Linked DNA regions of Homo sapiens. The protein of the gene in region 2 interacts with the protein of the main gene of each other region in a biochemical or structural test. Each region holds a gene or a part of one and is shown on either strand. Other genes may lie near its edges. The genes, in order: ERG and LANCL1.

The links.
Region 1: the proteins of LANCL1 (region 2) and ERG form a complex in vitro, tested with the Homo sapiens proteins (one large-scale study listed by BioGRID).

The regions. Positions count from the first base shown.
Region 1 is NC_000021.9:38,400,786-38,404,602, forward strand, and holds part of ERG (transcriptional regulator ERG), read right to left. Parts: intron 2,925-3,817; coding exon 2,721-2,924; intron 1,853-2,720; coding exon 1,772-1,852; intron 1-1,771. UniProt on the Homo sapiens protein: Transcriptional regulator. May participate in transcriptional regulation through the recruitment of SETDB1 histone methyltransferase and subsequent modification of local chromatin structure.
Region 2 is NC_000002.12:210,473,643-210,478,047, forward strand, and holds the start of LANCL1 (glutathione S-transferase LANCL1), read right to left. Parts: upstream 3,118-4,405; 5' UTR 2,978-3,117; intron 2,771-2,977; coding exon of another isoform or gene 2,755-2,770; coding exon 2,674-2,754; intron 1-2,673. UniProt on the Homo sapiens protein: Functions as a glutathione transferase. Catalyzes conjugation of the glutathione (GSH) to artificial substrates 1-chloro-2,4-dinitrobenzene (CDNB) and p-nitrophenyl acetate.

The DNA.
Region 1 (3,817 bases), on a different chromosome or scaffold from region 2:
ACAGACAGGTGCACCTGTCAGATTCTCAAGATGGAAGTGAAACTTGGAGCCTTGGTGTACTCCTGTGCCCCGTTTGCTATAAAGCGTTTTGTGTTTTGATTTTATAACTTCTTGATGAAGCCCTATCTGTGTCCCCCTCAATCCCACTTCCCACTGGGCAATCTCGTTTTATTAAAAAATTATATGGTACATGTTTTATTTTTCAACTTGTATAAAAACCCATAATATATTTTACAGAGCTTTTGGAAAGTAGTATCAAGCAATTATAAGTATTTAGCCTAAGAGTATATGGATTTTATTAATAATTAATCCACATCTCTATTCAAATGCATTTTCCCTCTCTCTCTTTTGACCAAAACTCATGCTGTTAGCTGAGAAAATTCCCTTTTCATAGTTCAGTCCATTTGGAATTTGTTGTCTTGTTCATTGGTTTCTTCCGTGTTTAACAATAGCAAAATTTAATATATTTGGAGCTTTTTTGAAACTTTCACTCAATGGTTAAAGAACTCATAAATAAATGTGAAATTATCAGAAAATGTGCATAGCTCAAAGGTGTTTCCTAAGAAGGGGAAGTAACTTCCTCTAAGTTATCTGTTATTTCTGGCCACAAGGTCACTAATAGGCTGATGTGTGCAACCAAAATTATTGAAAAAGTGTACTACCAACTCGAAGCAGGTTTTTTAAAACTTCAGATTAAAAAGACAATGTGTTGAATATAGAAGACCATGATAAATGAGCAATTTCATTGTAATACTCAAACCGGGACTCACTCACATTTTATATTTTAAAATAAAATGGTAAATATTGGGAAAATTGCGTATTTCTATGTGAGGGCTGATCGTGAGTTAACTGGCTGACTTGCAAGGCTTTCTGGCACTTCCCGTCTCCCTCCCTAGCCCGAGTGATTGTGGAGGGTCCCTGCAGCTAACAGAGTGGGGTGAGCAGCCGGTGGCCATGCTTCCGGAACTCTCTCCATCAGGAAGGAGCAGATGGATGTGAACCAGGAACACATTCATCCACAGAAAACCCAGCCTCTGCTGTGAGCGGGGGGCGAGGGAGGAAGGTTAGCCAGGATGAGGCACGGTGTTAAACCCTACTTAGGCTCAGGCAAAATAAATACATAACTAAGTCAAATGTAGAGGCAACGGTTAGAGATAGAAAACAGGCATTTGGTTAGTGACTAATTTCATATTCTCCAAAATTATAGCAGAGGTTCCCTCTGAACAAAAGCTCTCAAAATGTTACAGAAATTCCCTCCTGCCTTTTGCAAACATACAAAGTCTGTAGGAAAACAAATCAAATAGCCTAAAAGTTTATTGGAAAGGAAAAAGAAAATTCCAACTTATCCTAGCAAATATTTCTTTAAGAATAAAAATGGAAAAAATTAAAGGAGGTTGCTAAGGGCCCTTTTATATCGAACATGCTTTTAGTGTCTACAGAGTCAGCACAGCGAATATATTGGGACCAACAGAAGAAGACTGTAATCCGGCAAATGTGAGCTAAGTTATGGCTAAAGGCAAATTCTGCACGTCTCCTGGTTAAAAAGGAACCCTTTGATAATCAAAGTGGGGTGCTTGGGAAGCGCTCAGAAAACCAAAGGGCTTCACCTTCCTTTAGGCTGTGGTACATTCCTAAGTATCCGAAAGTATTCTGAATCATCTACCTGCGTTCTGTCTTCCTGGCACGCGCTGACTGGTTTCCCATGAAAGCATGCAACCTGTACGTAAGACCCTACGCTCTTGCTGGGAGGCAGGGGCGGGGCCAGCATTACCTGTGTTTCTAGCATGCATTAACCGTGGAGAGTTTTGTAAGGCTTTATCAACATCATCTGAAGTCAAATGTGGAAGAGGAGCTACAAAACAAAACAAAAAGCGACATCAAAATGAAAAAAAAAAGAGAGAGAGAGAAAGAGAATTACCTTTCTTACAAAAAAAAAAAAAAAAAAAGAAAGAAAAAGAAAGAAAGAAAACCGTTCCCCCACTCCCACACTAACATCATGGGAAGCTTATAACTATTTCCAGCAACCTGCTACTTGTTAGCATGTTAAAACCTACATGGGGGCCCGTCTTTAATTCAGGGAAGAAGTGGTTGGGATGCCAGGCAAAGCAATGGAGGAGAATTTATCCACCTCACTGTCTGTCACACTACTTCCTTCTCACCATGCTGGACGTTGTAGAAATTAAAGCATGCAGCAAACATTCTGGATTCATGCCAACATGCCATCCCTTTCTGTCAGGTTAAGCCGAATCACATGATACAAAGTGAAAACTTCCCTTGTTCTGTGCTCAGGTTAGAATATAAAGTGGGGCTTCATGTAGCTTTAGGGAGAATAATCCCCCTAATTCCTACGAAAGAGAAGCCTTAATGATTCTATTTCGATTCGGGGTATCATGGAGACTTAACTAATGTGTGACCAGTTAACGCTTCCTTTCCCCTTTGACATTCCATCTTCTTGGTCGCAGGACCCTGGAGGAGGCAGCTGAGTGTTGAAGTGAATTTTGGCTTCTCCTGAGAGCGCTGACTACTTCTCATCAGGTGATGTGGCCAGGGTGTTGCTCCCCTAAGTCATCACATACCAAGCATGTGGCTCCCTCGGATCCCCAGTGGGAACTGGGCGAGGGCAGGAGGATGCTGTCGACACACCTGGTTGAACCCTCTGAAGCTCAGGTCATAAGAACCATAGCCACAGCCATCTATCCTTGGAGGAAGGGGGAGCTTACTCTCTCTGAGGTAGTGGAGATGTGAGAGAAGGATGTCGGCGTTGTAGCTGGGGGTGAGCCTCTGGAAGTCGTCCTTGGTCATCTTGCACAGTTCCTTCCCATCGATGTTCTGGAATAACAAGATGTTGACGTCTGGAAGGCCATATTCTTTCACCGCCCACTCCAGCCACTGCCGCACATGGTCTGTACTCCATAGCGTAGGATCTGAAAGGGGTGGGAACACATTCAGTCAATTCCTGAAGCCAGGGATCTTCATCTTGGGGTAGATCCCCATCCACGTGGGATTTCTGACCAGCTGCCTTCCACAAGCACAGCCTCCAGCCAGCCTCCCTGGCTACCCAGGAGAACATTTTGGGGGAAAGACAAAAGCTGCCTCACATCCATAGATCATTGTCTTTAAAGTGAATAGTTCTGGAATCTTGGGATTATTCACATCACATGCCCTTGTTTTTGCTCAATCTAAAGTTTCCTGTAGGCATAAGATTTTAAAAATTCTTTTTTCTCATTTATGTTCAATTTTATTTATTTATTTTAAAATGAGTAAGAATAAGAGGAAACTTCTTTTCCTTAGAAAACTACTGGTATATTTATATATATTTATATGGAAATAAGAGTAAGCCACACATATCAGGAAGGTGCTAATTACAGATCACAACAACAACAAAAATAATAATAACAGTATTTATGCAAAATACTGAAAAATACTGACCACAGAATCGGAAATGAAATATAGATACACCAAGACTCTAGCCCCTCCTATGAGCCAGCGTTCCTCATAGAGAGCTGTCAGTTCCAGACTTTTCCTGCAGGGTGTTTGGTTTTGCAATTAACCAGCACCTGCAGGAGTGGGGTTGGTGAGTGGTTTTTGCATTCCACAGCTGGCCATGGCGAGCACAAACACCCCACAGGATGCAGGCCACGTCGTCACACTCCAGTGCTACCTATGGGACAGGGAGAGCAGGGCCCGGGGGAGAAGGAGCAGGTGATCTCCAACAGAAACGCCAGCCGGGATGTCCTGTGGTAAACACCCTCAGTGGTAGGGTCTTCAGAGTGTGGTAAATGGGGCGGCTGCTCCCTTGGGCCCCGAGCCCTGAGAG
Region 2 (4,405 bases):
AATTAACAACAACAACAATAGTTTAAGGATACGTTAAGATTCACTTCGGAGGAGCATCCTTGATAAGGCAAATCAGACTTTCAACCACATCTGGATTATTTAATCTAAAGCACCACTATGATCCCTTATTTCACTCTTTAGAAGAAACGACGTTGTTTGACAGACACACTCCCATTATTTAACAATTTCTGCAAAGAGGTTAAGATTTCAACTAGACTTGAAAATACATTTAGTAGGATAAAATATACTTCAATGTTAATACAAAAGGCCTATAAATCTCAGCTAGATAGAAGAGTGCATCTATATTGAGAACACGTCATCTACTGTATATAGATCATATATAATTTATCATCTTGCCTGGCCTTCAAGAGATCAAGAATAATGAGAATCTCTCAGCCTTATGAAGGGAAGTTACTTTCTGTTTGGCACATTCTGCATTTAATAAAGGTGACCTCTGTGAGAATATTGATTGCTTGTGGTACACCACCAAATCATTCAAACTCTAGCTATAATCTGAAGTCTCTAAAAGTCCTTTTTTCTTTTCTATTTTTTTCTGACAGATGCCAGAAAACAGACCAGTTCCTTACTGAAATCTTGTGTTAAGAAATTAAGGAGGACAGATCTCCAGGGTTTGATCCTCCGTGTTCAACATTACACAATTTTAGAACTGGTATGCTACTTCCTTTCTAGGACCTGTCCAAAAACTACGTTAGGCAATAAACTACATTATTACTCTTGGGTCAGGGTTTAAATTTGTGAATTTTTCCCCTTAGAAACAAAGGGTTAAATTTGGCCCGACATGGTGGCTCACACCTGTAATCCCGGCACTTTGGGAGGCTGAGATGGGTGGATCACTTGAGGTCAGGAGTTCGACACCAGCCTGGCCAACATGGTGAAACCCTGCCTCTACTAAAAATACAAAAAAAAAAAAAAATTAGCCAGGTGCGGTGGTGTGCACCTGTAATCCCAGCTACTCAGGAGGCTGGGGCATGAGAGTCACTTGGGCCTGGGAGGCAGAAGTTGCAGTGAGCCAAGACTGTGCCTCTGCACTCCAGCCTGGGCTCAGGGTGAGACTCCGTCTAAAAAAATAAAAATAAAAATAAATAAATAAATAAATAAAGGGTTAAATTCATAAAAAGCATTTACTTTATAGGCAGTCTAAATAGGTACATTTTATTGAAGGTTTCTGTCACTAGGACAATCCTCAACTGTTCTCTTTGCCAAGTCAGTATGAAGCAGCAAGTCCTCCTCCCGCAAGACAAGACACATACTTCAGCTTGAGAATCTGCACAGCTAAGCAGAATGCAGGCCCAAATGGCCAAAGGGAATCCATCTGACCTGAAGATAATTATAAAAAGCTTTGTTTGGGCAGCTTAATACTAGTCTTAAAATAATCAGATTGACTCAAACTCCATATACATTTTGGTAGCCTTCTACCCTACACCTCTTCTTCATCTCTTTGATTCCTCCTACCTGCATTACTGACCCAAGTTAATCTATAATGTGACAAGTGTTTTAAGGAAAAAAACAACCATCAGACCCACAGATTAATTTGACAGGGATGAAATCTGTAAGGCCTTTATATCACATAAAATGTCTTTTGTATGGCTGACAAGTTTCAAAGAAATAAACTGGTAAAATTTTTAAAGCGTGTGCCTTGTTTCCAACTTAACTCATTTTCAAAACTAAATTTTATTTTTTTATTTTTTAGAGACAGGGTCTCTGTCACCCAGGCTAGAGTGCAGTGGTGCAATCATAGCTCACTACAGCCTCGAATCTCCTAGGCTCCAGCAATTCTCCCGCCTCAGCCTCCCAAGTAGCTGGGACTACAAGCTTTCCACCACACCTGGCTAATTTTTAAAAAAATTTTAGTAGAGATAAGGTCCTGCTGTGTTGCACAGGCTGGTCTCAAACTCGTGGCCTTAAGCAATCCTCCTGCCTTGATTTCCCAAAGTGTCGGGATTAATGGTGTGAGCCACTGCACCCAGCCAAAAGTAGGTATTCTTAAAAATATCTGTATTCCCTCTTAACAATTATGTTCACCCAATGAGGCATGAGAAAACACAGGCCCCTAGTATTTTACATCCAGGTTCTCTTTTGCACAGTGATTTGTGACATGCTAACCAGTTTAATTTACAAGTTTCTTTTTTTTTGTTTTCCAGCTGTGGATATGCCCTGTGGAGTGACACCGGTACAAAGAACTTCAGGTTTCCTAGGTCCCCAAATTCTCTAAGCACTAACAGTTTAAAGACGTCCTTACCATACACCACCGTTTGCTCTCATCATTACCCTGAACGCACTTGTGTATAATCACAAAGGAGTAACACGGCACATGTGAATACCGTTAGGATTCTTCACCTCTTTTTAAGAAGCAAACCAAAATACATTAAAAAATGCCAATTACATAGTAAACTACATATTTGCCAATTTTTAAAATTTATACTATCAATAATTGAGTTTATTTCAATTAATAATGTTAACAATGACACATTTAACATTATGTTAGAGCTCAATTTGTATATATTAACATGTATTTTTAAATAATTTACGTATTTATCGTCGAATCATGTATTTTTTTAAAGGGGGATGCTCAACTCTCTCAGGCAAAAATGAGCACCTTTCCGAACACCGTGGGGAGAGGCAGGGATGCAGGCAGACATATCCTAAACTCACCCTCCCGGCAGCATCAAAGTAGCCTTCGGCCAGGGATTTGTTATAATCAGCATAAGGATTCGGGAAGGCCCTTTGAGCCATGACGCCGGAAGCAAGCCTGCAGAACAGGGGAAAAACAGAAACTAGGTTGAGATAGGGGCCTCGGCCGAGTTGCGAGGGCGGCGGCGGCGCCCAGGTATCCCCCTTCCTCCAGCTCCAGGGCCATCGAGCCGTCTCGGCGGTCCGAGTGGACCTCGGGCCCACTGCGGCCCAACTGCTAGGACATGGCGCCTTCGCGAAAAAGCTGCCAGGGCCCTTAACCCACCCGGACAAAGAGGCCCCGTTTTGCAACCCCGTTCCCACGCCCGCGACTTGAAGCAAGTGCGCCTCCCGCGTCCTGAAGCCCTTCTCGGCCCTGGCCTCTCACCCCGCAGCCCCGGACAGTAACAGAAGGGCTATTTTACCGCCCAGTTCCTGCCAGGAGGGCCAATCAGAGCCTTCGCCGTTCCCGAGACCCGCCCCCTTCTCTCTTACAGTTTGTTAAAGACACAGGCGTGTAATTTCTAAAGGATAACGCAGGGTATTTTAATTACTGGGTAGCAGAAGTGAGGACCTAGAATCACGCGGAGATGTGACCAATATTTCCTACCCTTCTTTAATTTTTCTTATTTTTAAAAAGTCAAATTTAAGTCCAGAGTCATAAGAAGTATATATTTTTTTAACCTGGAGAAGAAACAGACTGCTTTTAGATCTGAACATGCTGGTATTTCTGCTGTTCGCAATAGATAAAATTTGGCGGGGGGTGGGGGGATAATGTCTCTCCAGGGACTTGCCAATCTTTTCTTTTCATTTCTTAAAACAAACAAACAAAAAAGCACCACCATCATTAACAACAACAACAACAAAAATATGCCCAAAGGACAGGATATCAAATAGCAGTTGATAATACTTTGGGGAAAGCACATGAAAACACAAATTACAGCTCTTAGGAAATTTATTCTGTTCCTTAGCCTAAATTGGACTATAATACTGGATAACAAAGCTCTAAAAAATACTGAAAACCAACACAGCAGGAGATCCACAACATTCAATTTCAATGTTTTAACAGTCCCTGCTATCTGAAACATTTTTCTTTCATTTAAAATTAAATCCCACCTGGTACATATTAGGCCCATTCTATTGCTCAGAGAATTTTGGAGTTCAGTTAAAAAGTCAGCCTCACTCTCTCCTTTTCCTTCTCTCCGGTTTCAATGAAGAGTCCTAGCTCCAGACCTCCAACTGGAGAAGCTCAGTCTCCACCCCAACTCCCTCCCTCCTTGGCCTAAGTTTGTCCTTCTGAGGCTGCCATCCCAAACTCTACTCCTAATCCCTCCCCACACCCAGGTTTGCTCTTTTAAAATAGTTGCTTTCTTAGGAAATGTAGTTGCTTTCTTAACCTCATCAAATTCATGAAGATTTAGCCGAGGCCCATGGTGAGTCTTAAGCTGGATATCTCTCATGTTTTAAAAGATGGGTGTTTGAAGGAGCAACTCACAAGAGAGAAAAGGAAAACGAGAGACATTTTATCAATTATTTTTTCTTTAATGATTAAAGGCTATCCATTTATCCCACTCACAGTCTTTAAGCAATTAAATATTACTGTTGTTAAGCAAGGCAGGATGGTAATTGTATATTTTCATAGTATGCCTCTATCTTATTTTACTAATCCTTTCCCCTAATGATGGACATTGTTTCTAACTTCCATACTACAAAT